2 linked regions of the Homo sapiens genome follow. The protein of the gene in region 1 purifies or fractionates together with the protein of each later gene. This does not show direct contact. Each region holds a gene or a part of one and is shown in the gene's direction. Other genes may lie near its edges.

What was found. The genes of interacting proteins can lie anywhere in the genome.
Region 2: the proteins of EVI2A (region 1) and NCEH1 purify together in Homo sapiens (affinity purification with mass spectrometry; 2 studies listed by BioGRID and IntAct, with this or other methods). This does not show direct contact.

Annotation. Positions count from the first base shown.
Region 1 is NC_000017.11:31,318,623-31,326,593, reverse strand, and holds the start of EVI2A (protein EVI2A isoform 2 precursor), read left to right. Parts: upstream 1-4,971; 5' UTR 4,972-5,099; intron 5,100-6,080; exon of another isoform or gene 6,081-6,162; coding exon of another isoform or gene 6,163-6,221; intron 6,222-7,570; coding exon of another isoform or gene 7,571-7,580; coding exon 7,581-7,971. Other genes in the region: NF1 (neurofibromin), read right to left, coding at 342-774. UniProt on the Homo sapiens protein: May complex with itself or/and other proteins within the membrane, to function as part of a cell-surface receptor.
Region 2 is NC_000003.12:172,645,068-172,652,092, reverse strand, and holds part of NCEH1 (neutral cholesterol ester hydrolase 1), read left to right. Parts: intron 1-3,978; coding exon 3,979-4,207; coding exon of another isoform or gene 4,208-4,231; intron 4,232-6,400; coding exon 6,401-6,470; intron 6,471-7,025.

The DNA of each region.
Region 1 (7,971 bases):
CTCACTGCAACCTCCACCTCCCGGGTTCAAGCGATTCTCCTGCCTCAGCCTCCAAGTAGCTGAGATTACAGGTGCCCACCACCATACCCGGCTAATGTTTGTATTTTTAGTAGAGACGGGGTTTCACCGTGTTGGCCAGGCTGGTCTTGAACTCCTGACCTCACGTGATCTGCCCACCTTGACATCCCAAAGTGCTTGGATTACAGGCGTGAGCCACCGCGACAGCCTTACGTGACATTTTATACACCACTATAGGGGTAGGACACCTAGGGAGGCCAGGATATAGTCTAGTTAGTCAAGAAAAGCAATGAATCGTTTACAAAACACAGACTGGAACTTACTTTAATAGAAACTTTGGTGTCTTTGTGAGCTAGCTTGAGAGCATTGTGGAATACCTTCAGGTCCTCTTCTAAAGCCAAGGTGGCAGCAGGTAGTTTCTGTTGTTCATGCTCTATGTGCTCAGCCAGTTTCCCAGGACAGTCTATGAAAACAAGCCTTTTGCTACCTTTGAGGCCAGTCAGCAGCCGCTCATGATACTTGGTGTACTCCCTGACCCAGGAGTTACAGTTATAGATATAGACTGCGGAGACGTTGTCGTAAGCAAAGCCAGGAAAAACAACAAACCACTTAGAGAGAAAGTCTGTTTTAAAGCGATTGCTAGGCCCGGTATGGGTAAGGTCCACTACAATTTCATATGGCTTTGCATAATATGGCTTTAAAGTCAGTAAGACATGGTATATCAGCAAATCACCATTGATTTGACCAGTTTTGAACCTAAGGAAAATGACAAAAAAGACAAAGATTATTAGCAGTGTTTAAAATAAATATACAGATGCCACTAATCAATTTTATTTTATGATTCATTTTCTAGAGAGAATAATATAAAACAATTCTTCAAAGTCTGGATTCATTTTTTAAATCAGTTGTTTTTTGGACACTGAGAAATAAGGCTAAGAGAAGAGACAAATCTCCAATTCAAAAATTTTGAGCCACGACAACAATAAAAAATTTGCCCATGAGTCAAGAAAGGAAGAAAACAGTGGGAATTAGTTGGTTGCCTGCAGGGCCCACCAAACTCCTTAGGCGAATAGTCTGGTAGGAATGACCCATCTGGAGCTCTGGAGTGAGATGGTTTTAGCCAATCCATTTATCCCACCTTGATCACAGACTGATTCAGCAATGAACACATTATTCAAACCAGGACAACCAGGGCCAAAGAGGCCCAGTTCAGGTAGTTTAGCTTAAATTGTTGGGATTTGAGATATTTCTTTCCTGGTGTTTATAAACAAGGGAATACGTAGCCCTAGGAGTTGCTAGCTCATATTTTGGGATATAAAAGAAGAGCCTCCCAAAAGACTGAAGAGAAGGAGCTGAGAAATAGACAAACTGGAACCCTGGCCATATCATTTGTGTATGAGATAAAGCCTCTCCTGGGGTCAAATTTATCCCAGGACTGCTCAGTTACATAAGCCAATAAATACCATTTTTTGATTAAGCCATATTAGGTCATATGTTGCTTAAAACCAAAAGAATACTAATAAATGGGAGCAGCCACAGTGAGGACCATGAAAAAGCCCTGAAGTAATGGTACCAAAGTTTCAAATCAAAACAATCTATGTTAACTTAGGCCCAAAGTTTTCCATATGTGATGATTCTGGTGATAATACTACTAAGTAAGTTAAAATAAATCTTTACCTCAGAGGTTGGTTAATGGATATAAAAATATAATCAGGGCTGGGCACAGTGGCTCACGCCTGTATTCCCAGCACTCTGGGAGGCTGAGGCAGGTGGGTTACATAAGGCCAGGAGTTCGAGACCAGCCTGGCCAACATGGCAAAACGCTGTCTCTACTAAAAATACAAAAATCAGCCAGGCATGGTGGTACATGTCTGTAATCCCAGCTACTTGGGAGGCTGAGGCACGAGAATCACTTGGACCTGGGAGGCAGAGGCTGCAGCGAGCTGAGATTGTACCACTGCACTTCAGCCTGGGCAACAGTGAGACTGTCTTAAAAAAATAATAATAAAATAAATAATATATGTATTGTTAGAATTAGATAGAAGGAACAAGTTCTACTATTCATAGTAAGGTGACTAGTTAATAATAACATTGTATATTTCAAAACAGCTAGACGAAACAATTTCTTTTCTTTGAGGCAATGGATATCCTAATCACCCTGATTTAATCATTACACATTATATGCATGTATCAAAATATCACACATACAGGCAGGGCATGGTGGCTCACGCCTGCAATCCCAGCACTTTGGGAGGCCAAGACGGGCAGATCACCTGAGGTCAGGAGGTCAAGACTAGCCTGGCCAACAGGGTGAAACCCTGTCTCTACTAAAAATACAAAAATTAGCTGGGCGTGGTGGCACGTGCCTGTAGCCCCAGCTACTTGGGAGGCTGAGGCAGGAGAATTGCTTGAACCTGGGAGGGGAGTTTGCAGTGAGCTGAGATTGTGCCACTGCACTCCAGCCTGGGCGATAGAGCGAGATTCCAACAAAAACAAAAACAAAAAAAACCAAAAAAATCACACATACTCCATTAATATGTACAAATTATCATGTATCAATAAAAAACTTCACCTCAGAATTTTTAATCTTGTTGGGAGAAAATAAGATAAAAATATGACAAGTCAAATGATTTTAAAACAACACAAATATTTCAAGATAGAAGATATGAGGTAGAAAGTAATCACTTATCAAAGGAAATGCAGAGAAAATACTGTTATTAAGACAAAGGAGAGAGAGAGAGAGATTAACACAAACTGGGCAGTCAGTGAAAGCTACATAGAAGATACAGTGGCTGAATCAGGTAAGGAGGAATGCAGACTCAGCAAGAGGACTGGGCAGGCCTTATGGAGAAAGGCAAAAAGGAAAAGAAACAGGTAACTAGATGTGTTGAAGAGACAGCTAGTCTAGCCAGAATGGAGGATTCAGGTAGAGAAGTTTTGAGAGATAAAGCTGGGAAAATACAGAATAGTCAAATTGTGGAGAGACCATAACTGCCCAACCAAAGGGCTTAGGTTTTCTACTAGGGGCTCACCATTTCTCAGCATATGTTCTGTGGACTACTGGCGTCAGAATCAACTGTGGTGCTTGATAAAAATGCAGTTTCCTGGTCCCAACCTGGACCTACTAAATATGGATCTATGTAGTGGGGCCTGGAAATTTTTATCTTTTTTTTTTTTCCCTTAACTCAGGCTGGACTGCAGTGGCACGGTCACAGCTCACTGTAGCCTTGACCTCCCCAGGCTCAGGTGATCCTCCCACCTCAGCCTCCTGAGTAGCTGGGACTACAGATAAGCGCCACCATGCCCGGCTAGTTTTTTGTTTTTGTTTTTTTGTATTTTTTGTAGAGACAGGATTTTGCCATGCTGCCCAGGCTGGTCTCGAATTTCTGTGGCTCAAGTAATCCTCCCGCCTCAGCCTCCCAAAGTGCTGAGATTACAGGTGTGAGCCACCATGTCCTGCTTTTATAATTTTTAAACAATCTTCTCATCTGATGTTTATGTACACAAACATTTCTGAATCATTGTTGTATGTATTAGGGAACTGTTCAACCGGTTTTATTTTCCCTTAAAGAAAGGGTGGTATGACCAAAGACAGTGATGTATACAAGATATAAGAAGGATTCAGGGCTACCGAAAAGGCACTGTAGAGTCTAGGTATGACCTGATAAGGATCTAAAATAGTACTGTTGACAGTAAAAACAGGGAAAAAGAAACTGATCCAACAATATGAAGGAAGGACCAACATGATTCAAAGTCTGATCAGGACTGAGAGGACTTAAATTAAAATGATGTGTTGTATACTAAGCCTCTGATATTAGAATGTTGCTATCATGAACAGAAACAAGAAGACTGTCACAGGCAGCCTCCTTTAAAGAAAAAATAAAGTTCTTTTTATTTCATTAATTTAATTAATTTTTAAGAGATGGAGTCTTGCTATGTTACCCAGGCTGGATTTGAACTCCTGGGCTCCACCAGTGATCCTCCTACCTCAACCTACCTAGTAGCTGGGATTACAGATATGTGCTGCCATATCCAGTTCTTTTTTTTTTTTTTTTTTTTTTTTTTTTTTTTTTTGAGACAGAGTCTTACTCTGTCTTCCTGGCTGGAGTGCAGTGGCATGATCTTAGCTCATGCAGCCAAGATCTCATGATCTCTGCAGCCTCCACGTCCCGGGTTCAAGCTATTCTCCTGTCTCAGCCTCCCAAGTAGGTGGGACTACAGGTGCATGCTACCCTGCCTGGTTAATTTTTATATTTTTAGTAGAGACAGGTTTTCTCTATGTTGGCCAGGCTGGTCTTGAACTCCTGGCCTCAAGTGATCTGCCTGCGTCAACCCTCCCAACGTGCTGGGATTACAGGTGTGAGCCACCGTGTTCAGCCCATACCTAGTTCTTAAAGTCTGTTTCAGTCATGTTAAACTTGAGGTGATGACAGGATGTTTGACAGTTGTGTGTGTGTGTGTGTGTGTGTGTGTGTGTGTGTATACACACACTACACCACACGAAAGCATTTTCTGTCCCATATAATCTAAGTTTACTAGATATTTTCTCAAATAATTGCTGCAGTTCCACAATTGTTACATTATCTGATCAGTATCCCATGGACTCCAAACTCACATTTTCAAATCAGTCTGTAGATTTCAAATAAGTCTTTTAGAGAAGATTTGAAATGGAAGATACCATTTCAAAACCTCTTTTGAATGACACTAAAGCATGTAGCAGGCCTATAGAATGAGCATACTGTCAAAAGGCATTAAGTGGAAAACCCTCCCTGCTCTGGAGGCGGGGATTGGTTCTACAAAGCCTCCTGTCATGCCAGTGGCCAACTAGAGAAGTTGGAGCTTTTTCGTTGTTTTTTTTTTTTTCCCTCCTGTGACATGTGCTTTAGTTGCAGTGGAAAGGAAATGTGTCATCTGTGGTTTGGTTTTAAAAGTGGAAAACTAGCTGCACATATCCTTTTTTACTGCAGATTTACTTTAAGGCTCATATTCTCCAAGTCTATTCTGCTTTAAAAAGAAGACAAGAAAAGAAGTGGTTTATCAAAATCACGTTATAATCAGATTTTGACCAAGCATTTTGTAAGGTAGGTCATATATATACGGCTTTTCTTATGCCTTTTCACTTCTAACGTCTGACAGATTAGTGTTCGAGGAAATGCTATCAAAGTGTGTAAGAATCTCACTAACAAACTAGAATTGTGACTGAAAATGTATACTTTTTTTTTCTGTCCTGTTACATAAATTTTAAGTTAGAAATGAAAAAATTTGCCATCGCCATGGAGTTTTAAATTAGGATTACGAAGGATCTAAGTTTGGTTTCCTCAAGTAAACTGGAAATGTTTTGTTATTTTTCAAAAGTTAAAAAATAAATTTCTCATTACTAATGCTTGGACATTACAAATTCTACTGAAAATAAATTCTACTGAAAATGATCAGATATAAGAAAACTTCTGATAACACAACCTGGCCTCCAAGGCATAAACTGGAGTAAAAACAGTCCTCAATTCTCAGGCATTTGTAAGGGCAAGAGAAAGTCTCATTTTGTCATACAGTTTGTTTATTTGGGCACTGCAGTACATCTGGCTGAAGACAATCAACAGCAGGCCTATTATCTGTTCCGTGGTAAGCACTGTTAAAATGTGTACCAATACTATGATGTATACTACACTGTTAATGAACTAATGTGAAAAGAATAATCTACTTTAAATCATTCTAGCATCTAATACAGAAGTCCAGTCTAGTATAAAAAGATGGAAATTACTTGCTAATCCAATTTCAAGTATTTCTTTTTGTGGAAGAATCATGAAATATCCAAAGATTTATGTCACTAAACTTAAAAATTAAAGCTGAACACTATTATACAAAAGCCAGTGACTTGGGCCTTTAATTGTCTACTAAAGGTCATAATCTAAAAAGTAATCTTAATCCTGGAATATTTAATAGTTTTTCCTCCCTACTATTAATATGAAATATAGTCTCCAGTTAGCATTGTTTATTACATGCTACTTTTGTTTGCATAACTCAACGTATCACATTTCTTATTTTCAATTTCTGTATTTTAATAGTATACAAATGTCAGCCAATGACATATAACAACCATTTCTTATAAAACCTTGATGTTCAAAAGCCTGACTAGCAGTGGCATCCATGTTGCTTAGGAGTTGGTTTGGAAACAAAGACTTTCAGGCCCTACCTATACTAGCTAGGTAAGAATCTGCCTTTTTTTTTTTTTTTTAAATAAAAGGACTCCTAAGTACATTTGAGAAGAATTTCTATAGCATACGTAGGGTTCTTAACCAGGCAATTTCATTTAGTAAATCTCAGGAGAACAATATAGTTTTGCTTTTAGTTCATTCAAATAAATGCTAACAATAAAATACTCCTTTCAAAAGTAGCTCAAGACAAACTGGTATATTATTATAAGATACCTTAATAATGATTATAAATCTTTCCTGCTGGGTTAGCAGTACATGGAACTGTTAAATTCTAAGATATGCCATTTCTATTTAAATCAATCATTTGGTAGATTTAAAAAATGTATAATATAACTTGTCTCCTTTTTGTACTAGTTTCCAGCAAGCTCAGGGCCAAAGCGGAAATTCAACATTTTCAATTATCTGTTGAGATGCTTATAACCTGCCACTTCATCCCAAATCATCAAGATCCTGATGCTCTATTTCTATTTTATTACACATTTTTTTTTACAATTATGTCAAAATCAGAAAAAATGCTAGGTATAAATGATGCTTTAAAAGAAAACCCAGCAACTTTTGTTGAACTTTTAAGTCTACTCAGAGGAAATTTGCTGTTTTTTTTTTTTTTTCTTCAGATTTTTAGGTTGAGAAAACTGGTATGCCTTTGCCTTCAGAAAGACACAGTCAGTCCAGGGAAATATAAATGAAAAGAGACAACCACCACAGTAAAATTGCGTTCACAAATACACTTACAAATGTATTTCTAAGTACCAGCTTTATTCTAAGCTTCAAGATGAACACCCAAGAAAAAAAAAGAACACCTTGAATTTCTATTTGAAGTTCAGTTTCTTTTGGTTGCTACCAAACTTCCCCTCTTTCCACCAAAAAAATTTGCATTTATTTCATACATGAAGCAAGAAGCTCAAGGCCACATTTCTTCTGTAAAGATTGGTGACAGGTTAGAGGGTGGGTAGTTTCTGTAAGAATGATCCTTAATTTTTTTTTTTTTTTAAAGAAGGAATCAGAAAAGTAAAAGCAGAACTAACTGACTCAAAGCAGAAGTCTAGCACGCTTCAAAGGAAGAAAACTATATAAAGCCATGATAGTCCACTTAAAATGATTAATATTTATTTGTAATGCTAACTTCTAGCATCTAAAAGTGTTAATAGAAATTAAAATGCTTCTTCATACATAGCTGAATAGAAAAGAAATTTAGTTGAGAAGGAATTCAGGGTAGCGAATATTAGGCATAAGCTTGTAGTTTACTTGTAACATCTCAACACTATCTTTTAACTACAATTACCAAAACTAGGATCCATTATTCTTTCACAAACTAACAAATTATATTGCTATCCCAACAGATTGCCAAGCATGCCCACGGACATGGAACACACAGGACATTACCTACATCTTGCCTTTCTGATGACAACAGTTTTTTCTTTGTCTCCTGGAACAAAAGCAAACTATACCCGTCTGTGGGCTAACAGTACTTCTTCCTGGGATTCAGTTATTCAAAACAAGACAGGCAGAAACCAAAATGAAAACATTAACACAAACCCTATAACTCCTGAAGTAGATTATAAAGGTAATTCTACAAACATGCCTGAAACATCTCACATCGTAGCTTTAACTTCTAAATCTGAACAGGAGCTTTATATACCTTCTGTCGTCAGCAACAGTCCTTCAACAGTACAGAGCATTGAAAACACAAGCAAAAGTCATGGTGAAATTTTCAAAAAGGATGTCTGTGCGGAAAACAACA
Region 2 (7,025 bases), on another chromosome or scaffold:
ATGAGGCACAGGGTCAGCTGCTTCAGATTCCACAGACCTATCTGGGAGTTTTTGTACCCCAGGGTTCTTTTTTCATTGGCTCCCAGATATTTATCTATACAGCCCTCATTTCCTCTGCAACACTTTCTCTTCCCCTCTTCTACCATCTAGCCTGGGAAATCACTTTCTATTCTAGGAGACTTCTTATTCGTCATGTAATCTTCTAAATCAATGCCTATTTTTTAAAAGATTCTCGGCCGGGCGCGGTGGCTCATGCCTGTAATCCCAGCATTTTGGGAGGCGGAGGTGGGTGGATCACTTGAGGCCAGGAGTTCGAAAACAGCCTTGCCAATGTGGCAAAACCCTGTCTCTACTAAAACTACAAAATGTAGCCAGGAGTGGTGGTGCATGCCTGTAATCTCAGCTACTTGGGAGGCTAAGGCACGAGAATAGCTTGAATCTGGGAGGCGGAGGTTTCAGTGAGCCGAGATCACACCACTGCATTCCAGCCTGGGTAACAGAGCGAGACTCTACCTCAAAAAAAAAAAAAGATTCTCCAAAAGATACAGGCTTTTAAAAATCCAAAGGAAGGAAGGAACTCCCGTTTCTTTGCTTTTTTTTCTCATAGCCCTTCAAAGAAGTAACAACTATAGAAAGGTGTGGCTACTGAATTTATTTTCTGGGCAGTATGGTAGGAGGAGAGTAATGTGAAGAGCTAAGGGAAAGATATTTGAGTAAAAAAAAAGTTAGGTAATATTCATGAGTTTGTCATTGATATCATATAGACATGCAAATGTTATCGCATACTGGATAGGGCTCAGAGCAGCTTCCAGGACCCACACTGATTTACACCAGCATTTCTAGGCAATTCTGTAAGTCCTGCAGCCCCTCAAGGTTTTAGAAATCCAGCTTCTGTACTGGCTCCTTAATGTCTAAGCTTCTGTTCTCTTCTCTCTGTAAGCAAGATAATAGTACCTACCTCACAGAATAGTAGCCAGAATTCAGCAACCTACCCTAGCACTCACTGTAGGCACTCAGGCAGTGATAGCTATTATTTATAATAGTACCAAGAAAAGTAATTAACAACAGGTTACTGTTCATATCAATTTTCAAGTTTTCAAACAGTCTTGATATTGGCTCTAGTATAACTCTAATTTATCAATACAATTGTGAACATTAGCACAGTTTTTCTTGTAGCAGTTCTCTAAATTCTTTTTCTACTCATCTACCTACCCTTTCATATTCCTGTCTTTTACCCTGCATAAACAAATTGTCCCTTTTTTTTTTTTTTTTTTTTTTTTCGAGGCAGAGTCTCGCTCTGTCATCCAGGCTGGATTGCAGTGGCACAGTCTCGGCTGACTGCAACATCTGCCTCCCGGGTTCAAGCGATTCGCTTACCTCAGCCTCCTGAGTAGCTGGGATTACAGGCATGTGCCACCATGCCTGGCTATTTTTTTTTTTTTTTGAGACGGAGTCTCACTCTGTCGCCCAGGCTGGAGTGCAGTGGCGTAGTCTCAGCTCACTGCAAGCTCTGCCTCCAGGGTTCATGCCATTCTCCTGCCTCAGCCTCCCAAGTAGCTGGGACTACAGGCGCCCGCCACCATGCCCGGCTGATTTTTTTTTTTTGTATTTTTAGTAGAGACAGGGTTTCACCATGTTAGCCAGGATGGTCTCGATCTCCTGACCTCATGATCCGCCCATCTTGGCCTCCCAAAGTGCTGGGATTACAGGCGTGAGCCACCGCACCCGGTCCCAGCTAATTTTTATATTTTTAGTAGAGATGGGGTCTCACCATGTTGGCCAGGCTGGTCTCTAGCTCCTGACCTCAGATGATCTGCCTGCCTTGGCCTCCCAAAGTGCTGAGATTATAGGCATGAGCCACTGCACTCAGCCAAATTGTCCCTTTTCTAATCAGCACTTCTACCCCCACACCACTGTGTTGCTATTGTAAACAATGCAGATGGTTGTTCAAGTATTCTGTGAATGCAAGCGAAACATAAGCTAACATGGAGAGATGTTTCTGGAAAGGTGTGAACAAATTGAGTCAAACCCGCATGTACTCAGAGCATGCATTACATAAAGGAAACTCGAGGTGGGCTCTCTTATAAAATGTACAGTCTTCTCATATCTGTCATATAAAGACAATTCACTTGTTTTACAGCTTCATATAGTTAAAGAAACTCATGTAATTTGTCTCAAGTGTTTAAGAAAGTCTTCATTTAATTAAAAAGAAAAGTACAGTTCATAATATAACAGAGCCAGGTCTGCCATTTCTTTGTTCATATTTCATCGTTTCGTGCCAGTCAAACTACCTGTCCTGTGACAAGTGGAATGGAGCTTGCATGTTCCCTATTAATTGATAATGGTGTTAACAAGGGTTTATTATATCTACTCTAGAAACTTTGGAAATACAGTGATTCTTAGCTATTCCCTGGCAGATCTCAATATTCTCTAAATTAGACTAACATTTTACCACAAAACTCGAATGGTAATTGCCTTCTTCCAATTTACCAAAGAACTTAAGTTGATAGTTAGAATCCTCTGTGCAGTACATGTGTGAACACATATGTGCATGTACACATGCATAAATTAGTATCAAAGACATGAACAGTTTCAACTTGTTCAGTAAATTGGGCAGTTGATGTCAGGGCACATGTAGAAGTTGAATTTTCTTAATATTCATTTGCTCTGCTGCTGCTTATACTTGCCAGCGAATAATATTAAAGGAATTCCTAAAATAGCTGTTCATTGTTTGATTAACTGCCTCTTGTTCTTGTTTTTCATTAACATTTGCTAATGCTGTTATAATATAGTGCTTTCTAACTCTTTTCATGACAGGACAGGACATATATATATGTGTGTGTGTATATATATATATGTATGTATATATAAAATATACACACACAGTTATAATGTTTATATGGGACACTGGGGTAAAGGGCTCAGGAATTTGCCCAGAGGCTGAGGCGATGAGCACACACGGACCCTCTTCAAGGTGTACCGTCGTACGCTGTGCACAGCCTGAGAAGCTGTAAGGTGCCACATCGCAGACATCATATAGTCCTGATTTCTGCTAGCAACATTGTTTCCGTGATCTTATGATCATTAATCACCAGTGTTCTGTTTCATCATCTACAAAAGAGCACTGTTACTCTCCAGCTGTTCCCCTTCCTGATGAACTTGCGAAAGTGGAGAGAAGGATATAAACTCAGAAGTGTCTTTGCTTGGTGGGTAAATTAGGTCTCCTTGCTATGTTCCTTCTGCAACCAAATAACTTTCTGCGAACACTTAATGCAGAGCTTGATACCCTGAGGGTTCAGAAGGGAAGAGACCATCAGGCAGTATGGTCTTTGCCTCATTTCTAAAAAGCTTCTGGTTATATCTGAGCTGAGCTGCTTCTAAATGCCAGGGCCTCCCTTGACAATGTTTCTTTTTTCTCACACGCTCCTTTCAAAAGGACAAGACACATTTAAAGATACAATTAAATATATTGAAGTTACAAAGCAATTTAAAGAAATTAAGCAATAAGACACACCCAAATATATGTTACAAAGGAATTTAAAGAAATTAAAGTAAATAGAACATTTTCCTCTTTTATTTGCATTGAAATAAAGTATTATTTCTTTACTCCTAGTATGTTATTGGAACTGTGATATACTTATTTAGAAAAAAAAGGTACTGAATCCTGGAATTCAAACCTAATCTTAGGTTTGAGTCCCAGAACTACCACTTATCCAATGAAATGAACAAGCATAGTTATTGTTTAAGCCTTCTCAATAAAATGGGACTGATGATACCTGAGGAGATCTCATGTATGAAAATATTTTGTCCAAAAGCAAAAGGTAAATACAATTGGTTTTTGTATTAAAAGGGCTCAATGAGCCCTCCAGTCCAGTGGCAGCTGCTTGTAGGAATTCAGACACTCAGTTGGTGAGGGCAGCTCTGGTGATGCCAAGTTGACGTGCGCCCTCCCTCTTTATTTCCTCCCTCGCCCTGCAGAGTAACCTGATCCACTACCTGGGACTGAGCCATCACCTGCTGGCACTGAATTTTATCATTGTTTCTTTTGGCAAAAAAAGCGCGTGGTCTTCTGCCCAAGTGAAGGTGACCGACACAGACTTTGATGGTGTGGAAGTCAGAGTGTTTGAAGGCCCTCCGAAGCCCGAAGAGCCACTGAAACGCAGCGTCGTTTATATCCACGGAGGAGGCTGGGCCTTGGCAAGTGCAAGTGCGTCCTGGTCACCTTCAGATGGTTTGTTGTTGTGGTTGGCCTTGGGGGAGATGCGTAACTGAGTTTGGCTTTCTTAGTGGGAAAGAAGGGGACCATTTATCTAGGTTCCCCTGGATGGTCCCAGTTACCCCTGTTGTCCCAGCAAAATTATGACTAGTGCCCCCTTTTCACTCTCAAAAGGGTCCTGGTTTGGGTGATAAATTAAATGGTTATCCTTTGTAAAGGTTTTTTGCTTGTTAGTTTGTTTGTCAATTCAGGTAGACTGTTGTAAAAATATTTCCTATGATCTAAATCACAGACTAACTTATTGTGCAGTGCTGATACAGCTTTCTGCACCAAAACAAGGTGAAGTTTCACCAGGCACGCATATGGGGAATTATCTGTGCTTCTTTTGCCAACTTGTGTTTTGAAGATATATTTCTATGAAATAGACCAGGTATTCCTTAATACACATGTTAACATTTTATCTGCTTATGAAAGCAAAGGTAAAAATATATGCAACCATTCAAAGGAAACAATCTTGCAAAGTTCAAGAATATTTTCTTTAGATTTGGATGATTTTTATGAGTAGAACACATTCAAAATGGCAGGCAGCCAAACAGAGCCGCCCAGAAGAGAACCTCCCAAGGCGGAATTCGGGGTCTTGTCTCTGCTAATAAATGATCATGGAGCTACTTCCTCATCTTCAGTCCAGAGCTTTTGGCATCCCCTTAGTTTAAAAGCAATGGCAACTTGTTTTTTTTATTTTATCATTATGTGATTTTTTTTTAAAAGCAACAAAGGTCAAAAGGTTTGACTTTTTCTAGTAATCTTATTTAATTCCATATCCGTTGTTTATTCTTTTATTCAGTGATTTTTTTTCACATTTTCAATAGCTGTTCATGAGTATGTAGGTTTGCCCGAGACCAAGGGGTTTGCTGGGCTGCAGGTCTTTCAGTGCAAAAGCTCAAACAGTTGTGGGCAAGTCTGGACCATTGGTCAGTCTAAGGTGTGCTCGGGTGTAGGGATACAAAAATGAATAAGAAGGAGTTTCTGCCTTAAAAGAGATTGAATCTGTAGCATTGGACGCTTGCCAGGAAAAACATTGTACTGGAGGACAGCAAGTATGGGTGCCAGGAATGGGATGGATTACAAGAGTCAGCCTGGCCTTTTCTGCATAATTTTGACTGATCACTTCTGCCTGAGGAAGAACTTGAGCAGGTGGAGGTAACAGGTGTCTATGTAATTCTTAAGCTTCCGATTCTAAGACTGCCTTGGAAACCCTATAAATAAGGAAATGTTTGGCTCTCAGTTGGCACAATATAGATCTTAATTTACTGAGAGTAACTAAGAATTAAATTCTTACATATTAAATTGGTTCTGTTACTGCAGACCTTTGGAATCCTCTAAGAAATGCTAAGACTTCCTAAAATTCTAGTTTTTTACGTGTTCATTTAAAGAAAATACCATATTCTTCAAATTGATCACTTTACTGAACTGCAGCAAATGAAGTGTTAAAAGAGCAAAATTGTTAAAATTATTATTTTTAGACATAAGATCTCACTCTGTCACCCAGGCCAGAGTACAGTGGCTCTATCACAGCTCATTGTAACCTCAAACTCTTGGGCTCAAGTAATCCCCCTTCCTCAGCCTCCCAAGCAACTGGGACTGCAGGCGTGCACCACTATGCCTGGCTAATTAAAAAAAATTTTTTTATAGAGGCAGCATCTGGCTATGTTGCTCAGGCTGGTCTCAAACTTCTGACCTCAAATGATCTCCTTCCTTAGCCTCCTGAAGTGCTGAGATTACAGGCATGAGCCACCACTCCCAGCCTAAAATTGCATGATTCTAAGGAAGAGACTGCTTATTTGCTGTGATTTTTTTTCCAGAAAGATGTATACATTTGAAGAGCTATAAAATCAGGATTAATTTGGTGCATTTCATATAGTCCGTTATGAAATAAATATTTAGATAGTAATATATTCAAAACTAAACTATGCATTTCCTGTTATATAGTAGTTGCATGTTATTAGAAATCAGATTTAATTTTTCATGTGTACATGTAACTCTATTATTTGTTCACATTTGCTTTTTATTATTTGTTTTTAGTATTAGCTCCAAGCCTAAAAACAATTCACACTTAGCAGAATTTATGAGTGGACAGTATTAAATGACCTGTTTTGTAATGATTGTTCCCTTTGTGTCTTTTAGAAATCAGGTATTATGATGAGCTGTGTACAGCAATGGCTGAGGAATTGAATGCTGTCATTGTTTCCATTGAGTAAGTAATTAATGCTAGTCATAGAAAATTTTTCTTATAAAGGAATTCTAGATAACAGTCTGGTTACTTTGTTTTACAAGTGATAAAGTAAAAAATAAAGGTCTCAAGTTGGCAAAGAGATATGCCCAAAGTCACACTCAGCATAATCAGAAAAATGATTTCTGATGTAACAAAATTTATTGAACTAGCTTTATAACACTTCAAATTACCTTTTCACCGTTAGTTTTGAAAACTGAAAAAAGGATTAACTAAAAACCTAGAGAAGTATGCAATCAGTTACCTGCAACATATAACTTTTTAAATCTAAAAAGTAGTAAGGATTTTAAGAGAATCTCTTCTACAGCTGAGAGTTGAAAAAGTTGCTCTCTTAGAGTCAGGTTCTATGACTTGTGCCTTGGGAACAGAAATACGTGTTCAACAAATTTTAATGGTGTGGTTAGTAGTAATAGTAGTAATATTAATATTTTGGGTTGTCTCTGTCAGTTCTGTATAAGCCACTTTTCTGGGCAACTAAGAAGAATGTGAATAATAATTATAATAATTTTGATGATAATA